Linked DNA regions of Homo sapiens. The protein of the gene in region 2 purifies or fractionates together with the protein of the main gene of each other region. This does not show direct contact. Each region holds a gene or a part of one and is shown on either strand. Other genes may lie near its edges.

Region 1 (4,333 bases), on a different chromosome or scaffold from region 2:
AGCCCCTGGACATCACCCACTTGGCTCAAGACCAATGGAGCGGTGAATGGGAAGGGGTCACTCAAGGGACAGCCCGGAGACATCTACCACCAGACCTGGGCCAGATACTTTGTGAAGTAAGGGATCAGCAAGGATGTGGGATCAGGACTGGCCTCCCATTTAGCCATGCTGATCTGTGTCCCAACCCTCAACCTAGTTCCACTTCCAGATCTGCCTGTCCTCAGCTCACCTTTCTACCTTCTGGGCCTTTCAGCCTTGGGCCTGTCAATCTTGCCCACTCCATCAGGCTTCCTGTTCTCTCGGTCTGGCCCACTTTCTTTTTATTTTTCTTCTTTTTTTTTTTTTTGAGAAGGAGTCTCTCTCTCTGTCACCCAGGCTGGAGTGCTGTGGCGCCATCTTCACTCACTGTAACCTCTGCCTCCTGAGTTCAAGCAATTCTCCTGCCTCAGCCTTCCAAGTAGCTGGGATTATAGGCGCCTGCCACCAGGCCCAGCTGATTTTTCTATTTTTAGTAGAGACGGGGTTTCGCCAGGCTGTTCTCGAACTCCTGAACTCAAGTGATCCACCTGCCTCGGCTTCCCAAAGTGCTGGGATTACAGGTGTGAGCCACCACACCCAGCTGGTCTGGTCCACTTTCTTGGCCGGATCATTCATGACCTTTCTCTTGCCAGGTTCCTGGATGCCTATGCTGAGCACAAGTTACAGTTCTGGGCAGTGACAGCTGAAAATGAGCCTTCTGCTGGGCTGTTGAGTGGATACCCCTTCCAGTGCCTGGGCTTCACCCCTGAACATCAGCGAGACTTCATTGCCCGTGACCTAGGTCCTACCCTCGCCAACAGTACTCACCACAATGTCCGCCTACTCATGCTGGATGACCAACGCTTGCTGCTGCCCCACTGGGCAAAGGTGGTAAGGCCTGGACCTCCATGGTGCTCCAGTGACCTTCAAATCCAGCATCCAAATGACTGGCTCCCAAACTTAGAGCGATTTCTCTACCCAACTATGGATTCCTAGAGCACCATTCCCCTGGACCTCCAGGGTGCCATGGATCCCACAGTTGTCGCTTGAAACCTTTCTAGGGGCTGGGCGAGGTGGCTCACTCATGCAAACCCAGCACTTTGGGAAGCCGAGGCGGGTGATCACCTGAGGTCAGGAGTTTAAGACCACCCTGGCCAACGTGTTGAAACCCTGTGTCTACTAAAATACAAAAAAAAAAAATTATCTGGGCATGATGGTGGGTGTCTGTAATCCCAGCTACTCAGGAGGCTGAGAAGGGAGAATCAGTTGAACCCGGGAGATGGTGGTTGCGGTGAGCCGAGATCGCGCCACTGCACTCCAGCCTGGGAGGCTGAGCGAGACTCCATCTCGAAACAAAACAAAACAAAACTATCTAGGCTGGGGGTGGTGGTTCATGTATGTATGTGTATATACATATATATGTGTTTATATGTATATATATATACACACACACACATACATACACACACATACACACACAAATTAGCTGGGTGTGGCACCCGTGTAGTCCCAGCTACTCAGGAGGCTAATGTGGGAGGATCAGTTGACCCTAGGAAGTCAAGGCTGCAGTGAGTCGTGATTGCGCCACTGTACTCCAGCCCGAGTGACAGAGTGACATCCTGTCTCAAAAACAAAAAAAAATCTCCCCAAACCTCTCTAGTTGCATTCTTCCCGTCACCCAACTCCAGGATTCCTACAACAGGAACTAGAAGTTCCAGAAGCCTGTGTGCAAGGTCCAGGATCAGTTGCTCTTCCTTTGCAGGTACTGACAGACCCAGAAGCAGCTAAATATGTTCATGGCATTGCTGTACATTGGTACCTGGACTTTCTGGCTCCAGCCAAAGCCACCCTAGGGGAGACACACCGCCTGTTCCCCAACACCATGCTCTTTGCCTCAGAGGCCTGTGTGGGCTCCAAGTTCTGGGAGCAGAGTGTGCGGCTAGGCTCCTGGGATCGAGGGATGCAGTACAGCCACAGCATCATCACGGTAAGCCACCCCAGTCTCCCTTCCTGCAAAGCAGACCTCAGACCTCTTACTAGTTTCACCAAAGACTGACAGAAGCCCTTCCTGTCCAGCTTTCCCCAGCTAGCCTGCCCTTTTGAGCAACTCTGGGGAACCATGATTCCCTATCTTCCCTTTCCTTCACAGGTCTGCACACCTCATTGCCCCTTTTGCAACTACTGAGGCACTTGCAGCTGCCTCAGACTTCTCAGCTCCCCTTGAGATGCCTGGATCTTCACACCCCCAACTCCTTAGCTACTAAGGAATGTGCCCCTCACAGGGCTGACCTACCCACAGCTGCCTCTCCCACATGTGACCCTTACCTACACTCTCTGGGGACCCCCAGTGTTGCGCCTTTGTCTCTTTGCCTTTGTCCTTACCCTAGAACCTCCTGTACCATGTGGTCGGCTGGACCGACTGGAACCTTGCCCTGAACCCCGAAGGAGGACCCAATTGGGTGCGTAACTTTGTCGACAGTCCCATCATTGTAGACATCACCAAGGACACGTTTTACAAACAGCCCATGTTCTACCACCTTGGCCACTTCAGGTGAGTGGAGGGCGGGCACCCCCATTCCATACCAGGCCTATCATCTCCTACATCGGATGGCTTACATCACTCTACACCACGAGGGAGCAGGAAGGTGTTCAGGGTGGAACCTCGGAAGAGGCACACCCATCCCCTTTTGCACCATGGAGGCAGGAAGTGACTAGGTAGCAACAGAAAACCCCAATGCCTGAGGCTGGACTGCGATGCAGAAAAGCAGGGTCAGTGCCCAGCAGCATGGCTCCAGGCCTAGAGAGCCAGGGCAGAGCCTCTGCAGGAGTTATGGGGTGGGTCCGTGGGTGGGTGACTTCTTAGATGAGGGTTTCATGGGAGGTACCCCGAGGGACTCTGACCATCTGTTCCCACATTCAGCAAGTTCATTCCTGAGGGCTCCCAGAGAGTGGGGCTGGTTGCCAGTCAGAAGAACGACCTGGACGCAGTGGCACTGATGCATCCCGATGGCTCTGCTGTTGTGGTCGTGCTAAACCGGTGAGGGCAATGGTGAGGTCTGGGAAGTGGGCTGAAGACAGCGTTGGGGGCCTTGGCAGGATCACACTCTCAGCTTCTCCTCCCTGCTCCCTAGCTCCTCTAAGGATGTGCCTCTTACCATCAAGGATCCTGCTGTGGGCTTCCTGGAGACAATCTCACCTGGCTACTCCATTCACACCTACCTGTGGCGTCGCCAGTGATGGAGCAGATACTCAAGGAGGCACTGGGCTCAGCCTGGGCATTAAAGGGACAGAGTCAGCTCACACGCTGTCTGTGACTAAAGAGGGCACAGCAGGGCCAGTGTGAGCTTACAGCGACGTAAGCCCAGGGGCAATGGTTTGGGTGACTCACTTTCCCCTCTAGGTGGTGCCAGGGGCTGGAGGCCCCTAGAAAAAGATCAGTAAGCCCCAGTGTCCCCCCAGCCCCCATGCTTATGTGAACATGCGCTGTGTGCTGCTTGCTTTGGAAACTGGGCCTGGGTCCAGGCCTAGGGTGAGCTCACTGTCCGTACAAACACAAGATCAGGGCTGAGGGTAAGGAAAAGAAGAGACTAGGAAAGCTGGGCCCAAAACTGGAGACTGTTTGTCTTTCCTGGAGATGCAGAACTGGGCCCGTGGAGCAGCAGTGTCAGCATCAGGGCGGAAGCCTTAAAGCAGCAGCGGGTGTGCCCAGGCACCCAGATGATTCCTATGGCACCAGCCAGGAAAAATGGCAGCTCTTAAAGGAGAAAATGTTTGAGCCCAGTCAGTGTGAGTGGCTTTATTCTGGGTGGCAGCACCCCGTGTCCGGCTGTACCAACAACGAGGAGGCACGGGGGCCTCTGGAATGCATGAGAGTAGAAAAACCAGTCTTGGGAGCGTGAGGACAAATCATTCCTCTTCATCCTCCTCAGCCATGCCCAGGGTCCGGGTGCCTGGGGCCCGAGCAGGCGTTGCCCGCTGGATGGAGACAATGCCGCTGAGCAAGGCGTAGCCCACCATGGCTGCCAGTCCTGCCAGCACAGATAGGATCTGGTTCCGGCGCCGGTATGGCTCCTCCTCAGTCTCTGGGCCTGCTGGTGTCTGGCGTTGCGGTGGTACCTCAGCTGAGGGTCAAGGAAGGAAGGTGTGTTAGGAGAACTAGTTCTTGGATCCCTGCCCACTCTCCCCAGGGCTGCCCCTCCCATCTGCCCCTTACCTCCATCCCAGGGGAAGTAGAGACTGAGAATGTGGGTACAATAGGCACAGAGGTTGTGCAGCCCACGCAGGTGGACCTGCAGCTTCCCACTGGGCAGCTTTG
Region 2 (6,855 bases):
CTGGCCATGTCTTTTCATTTATTTAGATTTTCTTTTTTTTTCAGTAGTGGTTTGTGGTTTTCAATGTATAAATCCTGCACCTTCTTGGTTAAATTTATGCCTAGGTATTTTATTCTTTTTGATATTATTGTAAATGGAACTTTTAAAGTTTCCTTTTCAATTGTTCATTTCTAATACATTGAAATGCAACTGATTTTTATGTGTTGATCTAGTATCTTGCATCTTTGCTTATTTCATTTATTAGCACTAATAGATTTTTTATTTAGGATTTTCCATATATAATATTATGTAATTGGTTCCTTTTGTTGGAAAGGGATATTAAGAAATCAACATCCAGGTGCTAAGTGTACTCGTAGCTACTTTGATATAATTGCTTCTAGGACCTCTTAGCAGACAGAGCTAGATAATACATACATATACACATACATATATCTATATTTATTTATTAAAATCCATGAATTCTTACTGATTCCATCCACTTTAATTCTATTAGGAAAACTGGAGGCAGAACTCTCCATGTTGCAAGTAGCAGTGTCAGAAAAGCCCCAGTGTGGGAAGCAAGAGGTATACTGTGATCGATTCTGTGGCTGCAGTAAGAAGTGGCGTAGAGATGACTTTGAACTGACACACGAGATGTGTTCAGTGTACTTAGTTTCTGTAATAACACTCTCCTTGTTTTCTTCCTACCTCTCTGGATACTCTTTTTTTGGATTCCTTTTTGAACTTCCATTGCTCATGCCTTAAATGCTGGGTGTTCATCTGGGTTCTGTAACAAGCCTATTGCCCTCTCAGCTCACTTTCTAGATTAGCTCATTGATTCTAATGCCTTCCAGTACCTTTTGGGTAATAGCTACAGCACATGTTTTCTGTGCTTCAGATAGGCCTGTTTGACTACATACTAAACAGCTTCACTTGGATATTCTGTTGGTGCTAGTGTGTCAAAATGGAAATGTCCTAAACTCATCACTATGGCCTATTTCACCCTTCCTCCTGGTTGCAACTAGGTTTTCTTCCTGTTGCTTAATGGTTTCTTGTTGCCCAAACCAGAAACTGGGCATCCCCATGGACTACTGCCTCTCTTTCACACCCCTACATCCCAGTCCTCTTGATTCACTCTCCTAAATATGTCAAATATGTCCATTCATCTCCATCCTTATGGCCACTGCCGTAATCAGATCGCTATTATCCCTCACTTGGATTACAGCGTGCTAATTGACCTCTCAGACCCATTCTTAGAACCATTAAAAACTTGAGTTCTGAGTTTTAGGCCTGGCTGTGCCACTTATTAGCTGCATGATCTTGGTCAGACTGCTTAATCGCTTTAGGACTCAGTTTCCTCATCTGTAATACAGAGGTAAGAATAGTACCTACTTCATAAAGTAGTTGTAAGACACGTATGAGGTGATGTAGTCAAAACTATTAGCATATTGGCTGACTCATAGTAAATGATCAAGAAATGTTAGTTATGATCATGATCATCATTGCAGGGTTATTCACCGCACAGCCTCTGTTATTTCTCCATTTTCTTTTCTGATTGCTTTCAGTCTTTCAGCTTTTCTGAACCTCTTCCTGTTGCTCCAGTGTTGAATGCTATCTTTTGCTTCCAGGCCTTCCCTCTGCTCCATTTTCCTGGAATTCTCTTCTCCCTTGCCCCTTGCCCTCATTCATTCTAAGTTTATCCTTAACTTTCTCTTGATTTGGTGTCATTTATCTGTGCTCCAATAACACTCTTTAACTTCCTTTATTGAGGCTCTTATCTCACTACTGGAGTTGCCTACTTATTCGATGGTCTCTCAAGTAAGTCCTGACGTCAGGGACCAGTTTACCTTGTTTACTAATAGGGTGCCTGACTTGATGAATGAGTGAATGAATGGGTGATGAATGGGCCATAGCACCATCCTAGGTTTTCTGATCTCCTGTCTGGTATACTCCTGGTGAGAGCCTTGCCTGGCCACAGGAGTGGGGAAAGCTGAAGGCAGGCTTTCCCTGTGCCATATCAGCCATTAGCAATTACTACATTATTGGTTTCCCAGATTTTAGCTGATCAGTGATTCCCAGGACTATTCCTCTGGACATGAACATGAGGCTACCTTTTCCCTTTTTTTTTTTTTTTTTTTTTTTTTTTTTTTTTGAAACAGAGTCTCGCTCGGTCGCCCAGGCTGGAGTGCAGTGGCGCCATCTCGGCTCATTGCAACCTCCACCTCTCGGGTTCAAGCGATTCTCCTGCCCTCAGCCTCCTAAGTAGCTGAGACTACAGGCGCGTGCCACGACGCCCTGCTAATTTTTTGTATTTTTAGTAGAGACGGGGTTTCACCGTGTTAGCCAGGATGGTCTCGATCTCCTGACTTCGTGATCTGCCGGCCTCGGGCTCCCAAAGTGCTGGGATTACAGGCGTGAGCCACCTAACCCGGCCTTTTTCTCTCTTAACCTCACCAACAGTCTGATGGCCCTTCTCTCACACGGGAAGAGCTCTTGAAGTTATCAACCTGTTAGGACATTTGTTATCTCTAAACCCGAGTTTACTGTGTTATGTTTGCCTGGAAATGTTATATCAAATGTATGAAATTGCCAACTGTTTGTAATTTCATATGGTTCATCCTATATGTGATTTTGTAAATTGGACCCACCTGAGAAGCTAACTGCTGTAATGCCAACTGTGAGTAGCTACAGACTGGAAAGGTGATGGAGTTGACCGGGTGGGCCTGCGACAGCTGGAATTTGCGGTGGAGGTAGACACAAGTCAGCGAGACGGCTTAGAAGGCAGAAGGGAAGCTGAACTAAGGCTTCTCAACATTTTACTCTGCTTAGAAGTGGAAACATTTGGTTCAAAGGGCCTTTGCCTTAGACTCCATAGGGACAGGCCCAAGGGCTGCTGTTCACACCTCCTGGCCACTGAGAGGGATGAACTTGGCTGCCTCTGAGTGGGAACCACGAGGTCTGACCCCCTACGCAGTCCCAGGTTCACTACCCCGCAGGCCGGAGCGACACCGTTGGCGCTGGGAGAAGAGAGCCGCTGGGTGGCAGCAAAGGCGCGCAGGTTTCTTCCGACAGAGGCGGTTCCTTAACATACTGTAGTTTTCTTCTTTTTAAACTCATTGCTCTAACACTCTTAGAAATTTACAGTGGTTTTATATTCTTGAATTACACAGTGTGAGCAGAGACTCCGTTTGCCATTTCCTCCCGGAATTACATTGATTTTTTTCCTGCGAAATTTTTTACTTATTTTTCTCCCATGTTATTTCCAGGAATCCTGGGCATTCCCTTGCCCCGGAAACGCCGTGTCCAGGCCGACCTAAGCCAGGAGCCGCAGGGGCGGGAAGCCGGGGGCAGGGCCGGGCCTGGGACGCCGCCTCAGGAGCCGCGCGGACTCGGGAACCTCGGGCGGGGCCGGCGTGAGTACGCCCGGCACCTCCGGCTGCTACGGTGGCGACCGCGAACTGATGCCGTGGAAAACACCCTTAGAACATGGCTTTTTGGGGAGGTGAATAGGGGAGAGTCCCCAAACGACACCTCGCCGCGCACCGGTCCTTGGTGCAGTTTGTAAATGTCCCTCCTGTGTCCCAAAACGAAAACACTCCTATATTTTGTAGCGCCTTCCAGAATGGGGCAGCGGAAACTAGTGTTGGGACAAAGGAGGCGAGCGGGGCCTTTTCGGGGCTCACAGAGGACCCCTCGGAGGCGCGGCCGCCGGGGAGAGCGCGACAGCACCCCGCCCCCCGCCAGCCGGGCGGGGGCCGCTCCCGAGGTGACAGGAGAAGGCGGGAGGTGGAGGAGAGAAGGTCCCGCCCCACCTCGCTCTCCTTTACGGGAAGTGATGTGGGGCCAGGCGGAAAATACCCGCCAACGACCCAAAAAAGGCCGGCGGCGGGTGGACGCGGCGCGCGAGGACCCGAGCCAGGCGGGGACAGGACGGCGGGGCGAGCCAGGTGAGGGGGCCTGAGGAGCGGGAGGCGCGCGGCGGGTCCGGTCCCTCCGGGAGGGCCGAGCGAGGCGTCCCCCTGGGGCCGTCCTAGGGCTGGGGTCCGAGTGCGCCGCCCTTCCTCCCCGCCTCCAGGCGCCCGAGCCCGCCTGAAGAGTGGCTTCTCTCCCAGGCCCTCAGCGCAGACCCCAGTGATGACAACTGCCTGGTGCTGGCCAGGTGCGGTCCCAGGTCCGGCCAGGGTCTCAGATCGCCTCCGGGTTGCATCCAGGTGGGAGGATGCCCATCAGGGGTAGGAAACTTTCCAGGAGGGAAAGGAGGAAAGTCCCCGACCTCCCGCACGCCCCCCGGTTCATTCCTCCCTCTTTTGCTTTCAGTTTAACTGTTTAACCTGGTTGCCCTCCGGTTGGTGAGGGTCTGGACTGCAGACTAGCTGCGAGGGAGGGGCTCTCTCTTCTCCTGTCAGTTAGACTGAAAACTACCTGGCAGCCAGGCCCTCCGGTCGGGACTGGTGGTGGTGCAGATATGATGACAGGCTTTGGTAACTATTGCCAAAGCCTGTCTCTGTCCCAATAGATCACCAGTTCAGCAAAGTCAGGCCTGAAGCGAAGGGAGTCTTGTGAGCCCTGGACTGAGGAGCCTTCCCAGCCTTTCCGCTCCTGCTGGCCACCTGGGCCCACATGGCCTCAGGGTCTTCTGCCACAGGGTCCTTACCCCTACAGCTTAACAGCTGTTCTTTCCTTCTGGATGGATTCTCACATTTTATGGTTGGTTGATCAGTCAGATGTTGGAATTGGGGGTAGAGGGATTATAGAGTTGTGTGTGCTATTTAAGTTTTCTGTAATCATTGCTAATTAAATTTGTTGATTCTCCACTCACTGTTCTTGTTCTTTTTTTTTTTTCGGCCTTAAAAACTTGCTTTAGAGGGAAAATACAATCTGGAAAACAGTTTCTGCAGATGGTTAGAAGTGAAGAAAGGTTAATATAATGCTGAAGGAACTTGACTGAGGATCATTATTTTCTGTATTTTATGTTGGTTTATGTTGTTTTATGTTTTCATTCCTACTTTTTTCTTCCTTCCTTTCTACCATTCTCTCTTCCTCCCTCCCTCCCTTTTTTCTTCCTTCCTTAATTTCTGTGACGTGCCTTGATTTTTAATTTCGTTGAAGTATATTTAATCTATTTTTCCTTTTTTTTCTTTTGAGACAGAGTCTCACTCTGTCGCCCAGGTAGGAATGCGGTGGCATGATCTTGGCTCACAGCAACCTCCGCTTCCTGGGTTGAAGTGATTCTTTTGCTTCAGACTCCAGAGTAGCTGGAATTACAGGTGTGTGCTACCATGCTTGGCTAATTTTTGTATTTTTAGTAGAGGCGGGGTTTTGCTATGTTGGCCAGGCTGGTCTTGAACTCCTGACCTCAAGTGATCAACCTGCGTCAGCCTCCCAAAGTGCTGGGATTATAGGCTTGAGCCACTGCACCGAGCCTATTTTTCCTTTTGTTGTTTGTGCTTTTGATGTCAAAGTTAAGAAAACATTGTCAAATTCAAGATCATGAAGATTTATACTTATGTTTTCTTCTAAAAGTTTTATAGTTTTTAGCTCTTACATTTCATTCTTTGACCCATTTTAAGTTAATTTTTAAATATGGTGTGAGGCAGGGGGTCTGACTTCAACTTTTTGCATGTGGATATCCAGTTCTTTCAGCACCATTTGTTTAAAAGACTGTTCCTCTTTGAATAGTTTTGGCACCTCTGTTGAGATAAATTGACCATGAATGTAAAGGTTTATTTCTGGACTGTCAGTTCTATTCCATTGATCTGTATGTCTGTCCTCAGGCTAGTATCATACTACCTTGATTATTGTAGCTACATAGTGTTTTGAAATCAGGATATGTGAGTCCTCCAACCTTGTTCTTTTTCAAGATTGTTTTGACTATCCAGTCCCTTGAATTTCCATATGAATTTTTTTTTTTTTTCGAGATGGAGTTTTGCTCTTATTTACCAGGCTGGAGTGCAATGGCACGATCTCAGCTCACTGCAACCTCCGCCTCCCTGGTTCAAGTGATTCTCCTGCCTCATCCTCCTGAGTAGCTGGGATTACGGGCATGTGCCACCATGCCTGGCTAATTTTATATTTTTAGTAGAGACAGGGTTTCTCCATGTTGGTCAGGCTGGTCTCGGACTCCCGATCTCAGGTGATCTGTCTGCCTCAGCCTCCCAAAGTGCTGTGATCATAGGCATGAGCCACCATGCCTGGCCTTCCACATGAAATTTAAAGTCAGCTTCTCAATTTCTATTGTTTTGGTTCTAAAATAGATGTAAGGGTTTTAAAGTGAGCAACAATCTCTAGGAGCCAGATTTTTGAGTTTTCTCTCCCAAAGCTGCTTTTCCCCTAGTCTTCTCCATCTTAGTGAATGGCAACTTCACTCTTCCAGATGCTCACACCAAACACCCTGAAATCACTCTTGATTCTTTCTCTTATACCCCACATTAAATTCCTCAGCAGGCCGGGTGCGGTGGCTCACGCCTGTAATCGCAGCACTTTGGGAGGCCGAGACAGGTGGATCACGTGAGGTCAGGAGTTCAAGACCAGGCTGGCCAACATGGTGAAGCCCTGTATCTACTAAAAATACAAAAATTAGCGGGGCGTGGTGGTGGGTGCCTGTAATCACAGCTACTCAGGAGGCTGAGGCAGGAGAATCGCTTGAACCCAGGAGGCGGAGGTTGCAGTGAGCTAAGATCGTGCCATTGCACTCCAGCCTGGGCGACAGAGTGTGAGTCCGTCTCAAAAAAAAAAAAAAAAAAAAAAAAAGAATACATCTAGGATGATAACCATTTCTCACCACTTCTGCTGCTTCCACCAAGTTCTATCATCTCTGTCACCTGGATTACTGCAAAAGCCTTCTGAAGGGCTTCCCTGCTTCCACCCTTACTGCTC
Region 3 (7,035 bases), on a different chromosome or scaffold from region 2:
AGCCAAGAACTCAACAGAAGAGCAGTCAAGATGGAAGTTATAAGATCTATATGATAATATTGACATGCTTCATACATAGGGGAATCCCTGAGATCATCACTTAGAACATATTCATCCTCATTTTAAAAATAATTCTAGCAAGCTCAGCATATTAGAACCACCCCCTTAGAAGATACAAGGAATGTTATCAACTTCTGCAAAGACTATGTTTGGTGGGGTTGCTATTAGACATACAAATGACAGTTTGTATAGGAAAGGGAAGAGAAAAACACCTAAAATGCAAACTTACATCAAACATCACAAAGGCCTGATAACATTTAGTGTAGTGACAAATACTCATTTTTCAGGTCATTCAACCCACATTTACTGAGAACCTAGTCCCTTCCCTTGTGAAGTTTACTGTATTGCCTATTCTCAGGAACGTTCTGGCCTTCCTAACAGTCATATCCCCAAAGCTGTTCTTAAGACAATGTAGGCTTTTCATTGCATCCTTCTTTCTTTTTGAAGACCATGTAGACATTCAGCCTGCATTTTTTCTTTTTAAAAGCACACTGCTCACATCTTTTGGAGTTCTTCCCCTAAGATGGGCTGCAGAGTAGGTTAGCTTAATTTTTCTACTGCATAGGATAAACACATATATTCTTTTGATTTAAGAGTTTTATTGTTAGCCAAGCATGGTGGCACGGGCCTGTAATCCCCATTACTCTATAGGCTAAGGCACAGGCATCCCTTGATCCTGGAAGGCGGAGGTTGCAGTGAGCTTAGATGGCACCACTGCACTCTAGTCAGAGAAACAGAGTGAGACTGTCTCAAAAAAAAAAAAAAGTTTCATTGGCCAGGTGCAGTGGCTCAGGCCTGTAATCCCAGCACTTGGGGAAGCCGAGGCAGGTGGATTGCTTGAGCTCAGGAGTTTGAAACCTCAGCCTCCCAAGTAGCTGAAATGGGTGACACAGCAAAACTGTATTTCTACAAAAAAAATACAAAAATTAATTGGGTATGGTGACACGTGCCTGTAGTCCCAGCTACTTGGAAGGCTGAGGTGGGAGGATTGCCTGAAACTGGGAGTTTGAGGCTGCAGTGAGCTATAGTTGTGTCACTGCACTTCAGCCTGGGCAACAGAGCAAGACCCTATCTCAAAAAAAAAAAAAAGTTTTATTGCTAAAGATTATGGGGAAAGAGAAGGGATAGCAAAGATAAACATGGAAATTATAAGGAGTACTGCCCCTAAATCCTGATTATCTTGCTAGATAGTGTTTAGCACCATACAGTAGTAGATGTGGCAGCATGGTGTATGATAATCACATGACCATCCTATTGTGTGATTTTGGGAAAATTACAGAATTTCTTGTGACATCATTTAGTTCATCTGTAAAGTGAGAAATTTCAATAGATGATCTCCAAGGTAGGGATCTACCAGCCCTAAAATTACCATTGTATATATCTATTTATGACACCATGTCCTTGAGAAAAGGCTAAATTCTGTTCTGTGTAGTCTTTTTAAGAAGGAAAGTCAGTGTTTCATATACTTCAGAAATTTTCCTATAAAAATGGCTGATAGGGTTTAGATATTTGTCCTGCCCAAATCTCATGTTGAAATGTTATCCTCGTTGTCGGAGGTGGGGCCTGATGGGATGTGTTTGGGTCATGGGAGTGGATCCCTCATGGCTTGGTACTCTTCTTGTAATAGTGAATTCGTTCTTGCAGGATCTGGTGGTTTATTTTTTAATTTTTTTTTTGAGACAGGGTCTTGCTCTGTCACCCTAGTTGGAGTGCAGTGGCACAATCATGGCCCACTGCAGCCTTAACCTCCTGGGCCCAAGCAATCCTCCCACCTCAGACTCCTGAGTAGCTGAGATTACAGACATGCATCACCATGCCTGGCTAATTTTTTTTTTTTTATTTTTGTAGAGATGGGGTCTGCCTATGTTGCCCAGGCTGGTTTTGCACTTCTGAACTCAAGCAATCTACCTGCCTTGGTGGCCCAAATTGCTGGGATTACAGATGGGAGCCACTGTGCCTGGTCGACTGGTTGTTTAAAAGTGTGTGGCATCTCCCCACACTTGCTTGCCTTGCCTCTCACCAAGGGAGATGCCTGCTTCCCCTTTGCCTTCTGCTATGACTAAAAGCTCCCTCAGGCCTCCCTAGAAGCCGAGCAGATGCCTGTACCATGCTTGTACAGCCTGCAGAACCCTGAGCCAATTAAACCTCTTTTCTTTATAAATTACCCAGTTTCAGGCATTCCTTTATGGCAACACAGGAACAGCCTAATACAGTGACTGATTAGAAAAGGCATTTTCTTAAAAATGATAGGCTGCTTTTTTCAGAAAAGGTCACTTAAGTAGCCTTTCCTTGATGTTGGGATGTTCCAGTCCCATTCCTTGATGTTGGTGAATTTAAACATTAAGGTAGTTAACCTTGACTGGCAGCTCATTGACTTATGATGATGTTGGAATAGCATCACTTCTGTAAGCCTTGGGGGATAGTAATATTGCAGGAGGAGTTGTGAAAACTGATATTTACCAAATATCTGTTTGTGCCAGCCTTAACACAAGTGATTTCCTATATTTCTAACTTAATCTTCTCCCAGGATGCCTGAATGTGGTTCTCACATCACAGGATGTCCATAGTCCTCCCTGTGTACTTCCAAAATCTTCACATCTATTGTCTACAGTGGATTTTTAAAAATTGTAAGATGCCACCTATTAGTGGATCATGGAGTGAATTCCAGCATTATAAAAATGAGGTAGAATATATCAGAATGCATGTAGTAAGGATGAATGTTGTTTTTTATATATATATGTATATATATATATATATATATATATATATATACACACACACCATATATATAACATATATATATATATACATAAACACACATACACACATATGTTTTTGGGGAGGGCAGGTTCAAAAAATTTAAAGCATAGAGTATATTGATCAGCTGAATGACATAGTGAGTAGGAGTGAAATGGTATTTCAAAAGTCCTTTCTTTGTTGTCTTCTCTTTTGTTCACCAGCTTGCATTATTTATCATTTGTTTTCCTCATAGTTTTTGGAACAGATTTAGTATCGGTCTTATTTGAGGTATAGTATGAAACACTCCGTTGTCAGCGTAAGAGATGCTATAGGAGTGAAAGATAGCCTGCAGATTTTGCTGTTCTGAAAAATGCTTTGCACTTCTTCAGGCATTTATTGATGGAAAAGTATGTTTTTGTTTGCTTCCAATACCTAGAAAAGTAAAGAGTTATCTAACTCTGGAGAAGACTCTCTGGGAGATGCTTACCCTTCTCTGTAAATCATGAATTTGAGCCAATACCTCAGAGAGAGCCACATCTGTTGCCATAATTTCCTCTGCAGCATCATTTTCATCTCCCATGCCTCATGTCATTTTTCTCATTTTCTCCAGTGTTTTCATGATGTTTTGGATAACAGGCTACAGTAATTAAATTCAAATATGGCAGCCCACCATTACATTCTCATGTTTAACATAAAATCCCAATGCACAGAAACAATTATAATTCCATATAATTGACCTGTTAACTCATGCTAAATCATCTGCTATTCAGTCTCAGTGCATTCTTTAACTAAAAAGTTAGTCTGTGCCTGTTCTGTATATAAATATATTTAAAAGTAAAATAGGCTAAAAATCACTGTTGGTGCTCATTGGAAACATTTTGGGGGCGTTTAGTTGTGGCCAGCAAAATAGGGATACATTGAAAGGTTGATGTTTTGTTTTTGCTTTTCTAATAATTTCATTTAAGGTTTGGTGTAAAAAGAGTTGATAATTTATCACAGATACTGCTTTTTTAGAGCATGATTATGAGAGCTAGCATGTTATCATATTGAGGGTGTTTTTGAAAAGAACAGTTTGCAAACAGACAGGAGAAGAGACCAGAGGCAGCTTGGCCAGTATGGTGCTTAAATAAGTGTTTCATCTCATACTGGATTTTATCAGGAGCTGAAGTTGGTAATGTATTCCTTGACTGATTTGGTTTTTATCACATTTTAAAAAGTACTGGTGAAGCAGGATATTTTCCTGACCCCTTCATGGGACTTGTGAAGGGAGCACCCTGTTTACTCAGCCCACCGCTTTCAACTCCTCATAGGAGGGAGCACGTGAGTGAACAAGGCAGGAACTGGAATACATGAGTGCTGGAGTCAGCCTGCCGCTCTTGTGCCAGGAGGAATGAACTCCACTCACTCGGACCTGCTGTGTTTCACCCCTCACAAGAGGGGATGTGCAGTTGAGTGGGTGCAGGAGCCGGGGCGAGTGCTTTTGGGCACTGGCAGGAGTCAACTCTGTGCTGGCCCTGTGGTAGCATCTCCGGGGGTGGTGCCTGCAACCCCTGAAGCTCCAGAGGGAATGTTACAGTGCTCTTTTAGCTCTGCTGTCCGCAGACGGCTTAAGGGTTAACAGCTCAGTGGGCCCTCTGCCTTTTTGTGTTAATCGGCTGCCTTCTACCAGTGAGGGCAAAGGGCAAGTGTGACAGCCTTTTTGTGTCCACACTCATCGTTCCCGAGCTCTTGTCCGGCATCCAGGAGAAATGAGGTCACATGAATGAATTGAAGGATGGTAAATGTAGGGGATCTTATTGCTGATGGAGATGGCTCTTAGTGGGAAGGGGAGCTGCAAAGGGCAGGAAGGTAGTCTTCCCCTGAATGCCAGCTGTCTCTGGCCAGATTCTTCTTCGAAGTTACGCTGTCAAGGTGTCCCTCTGAAGTCGAGCCACTTCTCTCTGATGTCCAGCTGTAGTCTCTAATGTCCAACTGCTTCTCTTCTCTCTGCTGGCTGAGCCTGGGGTTTTTATGTACACAGGATGGGGTGTGGGGTGGGCCGTAAGTGGTTTCGGAAAAGGCAACATTCGCACGGGAAAATGGGGATATAAGTTCTCACTTTGCGTCATGGTTTCAGGCTTGAGGGTGGGGTTTTCTCAGGGACCTGCCCTTTTCTGCCTAGAATTTCCCTGCCTCCTGTCCCTGTCACTCACTAACTTCTACTCTTTCTTTTGAGTATTCTCACCTGTCTTTTTTTTTTTTTTTTTTTTGGTCTAGGCCAGTGTTCTCATTGAGTTATTATGGCTACTAGTTAATGGTGGTTTTAATCATTTTATATTGCTTTGAAATGTTTTGAATCATGTTTCTGTGATCTGACTTTGCACATTTGTTAAACTAGTCTTATTTATGTGGATTTAAAATCATCATGAGAAAATTTACACAAGCTAAAGTATAGAGAAAAAGTTTTACACATGGATATGAGGCATATTAAGAAGATGCTGAGCTGTGAGTTCAAATCCTTATTTTCTACACCTGTGTTACTTTGGTTTAAGCTATGTAAGCAAAATCAATGATAATTAGAAAATTGTTTTTAGTACCTACAACACACTGTCAAACACATGAAAAATATTGTCTAACATTTGTTATATGCCAAGCACGGTGATAAGCCCCTACAATGCATTGTCTCATTTTCACAGTAACCCTGCAGTAGATACTATATCATCTCCATTTTTCAAATGTGAAGCCTGAGGCTCAGCTAAGTTTGATGTAGGTGAAACAGTTAAGACGAAAGTTTTTCTGACTAAGGTTGAGGTATTAGATTAAGTTTGCTAGAATCTTTCAATTGAAAAAATAGCTCATAGTATCAAGATGAGATTATTTTAACCTGGGTTTGTGGTTGGCAGTTGTTTTATTTTGGAGAGTTATCATTGTTGACATTAAAATCCTGATTCCAGCAGTAACCTCATGATGTCAGCTTCTTATTATTGACAGCATCATGACATCTGTGTCAGCTTGCAAACCTTCTTTTGATGAAGGTGAACGGAATGACCTGGTTGTGTTTATCCCTTAAAACTGAAGAGAGAATCAACCACTAAAGCAATGGCCAGAAATGGGATCAGAGATTACAGTTACATTTTAAGAAATGATTTGCTTCAGTAGGAATTCTTCATTGATCCTGTAAACCAAAATAATTTAGATTACCAAATTAATTTAGAAAGTTTATTTTACCAAGGTTAAGGATGCACCTGTGGCACAGCCTCAGGTCCTGATGACGTGCCCCAGGCGGTAGGGGCACAGCTTGATTTTACATGTTTTAGGGAGACATGAAACATTAATCAACGTTTGTAAGATGTATAATTCATTGGTTCCATCAGGAAAGGCCAGACAACTCGAAGTGGGGAGGAGGCTTCTGGGTCATAGTTAGTTAAGAGACAAATGAGGAATAGTCACTTATGCCTTAGTCTGTAGTGAAACAGTAGGGCGGAGGAAGCCATCAGATACGCATTTGTCTCATGGGAACAGAGGAATGACTTTGAGTTCTGCCTGTCCTTTGGTTGTCCACAAGGAATTTCCTTATGGGCAAATTGTGAGGGAGGTATGTAGCTTTTTAAAAATCTTTGTAGTGATCTTATTTAGGAATAGAAAGGGAGAGAGGTTTGCCCAACACAATTCCCAACTTGACTTTTCCTTTTGGTTTAGTGATTTTGGGGAGATTTGTTTTCCTTTCACAATCCCAAGGTACATAATTTCCCACTGAAATACTTGTGCATGTGCTGGGGTTTGCCATTTTGTGTCTTTTTTAGTGTTCTTCCAAATTAAATTTTCAAGATCAAATATGGGACTCATTGTCCTGTTTATGGAGCTTTTTTTCTTTTGGTTGACTATTCTTTTGTTTCCTACAGTCTTCAACAACTGTTAGTGCTTACAATGGATACATCATGCATCTTAATTGATAGGATGGATATGATAATACCTTTTTTGGTCCAAGGTCCCGCTCATTAAAAAAAATAGTTTATAAAGCTGAAAAGTTTTTATTTCTATTTTTTGTAAAATGATTTTCATGATAGGATTTTATATAAAGGGGAAGGGTTTTTTGTATCATTTTTATAACATTTTTGAAATGAATACTTATTCTCTTTCATCATCTATTTTAGACTCACAGTTTTATGAGTAATGCAGTAAAGGTCATGTGGCACATTAGTAAAATATGTTCTGAACACAGAAACTATTCTCCTTATCACAAATTAAATTTTATGT

The links.
Region 1: the proteins of RAB27A (region 2) and GBA1 purify together in Homo sapiens (co-immunoprecipitation; 2 studies listed by BioGRID and IntAct, with this or other methods). This does not show direct contact.
Region 3: the proteins of RAB27A (region 2) and CHM purify together in Homo sapiens (co-immunoprecipitation; 2 studies listed by BioGRID and IntAct, with this or other methods). This does not show direct contact.

The regions. Positions count from the first base shown.
Region 1 is NC_000001.11:155,233,917-155,238,249, reverse strand, and holds the end of GBA1 (lysosomal acid glucosylceramidase isoform 1 precursor), read left to right. Parts: coding exon 1-116; intron 117-671; coding exon 672-909; intron 910-1,780; coding exon 1,781-2,005; intron 2,006-2,405; coding exon 2,406-2,569; intron 2,570-2,938; coding exon 2,939-3,055; intron 3,056-3,149; coding exon 3,150-3,255; 3' UTR 3,256-3,798; downstream 3,799-4,333. UniProt on the Homo sapiens protein: Glucosylceramidase that catalyzes, within the lysosomal compartment, the hydrolysis of glucosylceramides/GlcCers (such as beta-D-glucosyl-(1<->1')-N-acylsphing-4-enine) into free ceramides (such as N-acylsphing-4-enine) and glucose.
Region 2 is NC_000015.10:55,286,787-55,293,641, reverse strand, and holds the start of RAB27A (ras-related protein Rab-27A), read left to right. Parts: upstream 1-3,828; 5' UTR 3,829-3,926; exon of another isoform or gene 3,927-4,190; intron 4,191-6,733; exon of another isoform or gene 6,734-6,855. UniProt on the Homo sapiens protein: Small GTPase which cycles between active GTP-bound and inactive GDP-bound states. In its active state, binds to a variety of effector proteins to regulate homeostasis of late endocytic pathway, including endosomal positioning, maturation and secretion.
Region 3 is NC_000023.11:86,037,524-86,044,558, reverse strand, and holds part of CHM (rab proteins geranylgeranyltransferase component A 1), read left to right. Parts: intron 1-7,035. UniProt on the Homo sapiens protein: Substrate-binding subunit of the Rab geranylgeranyltransferase (GGTase) complex.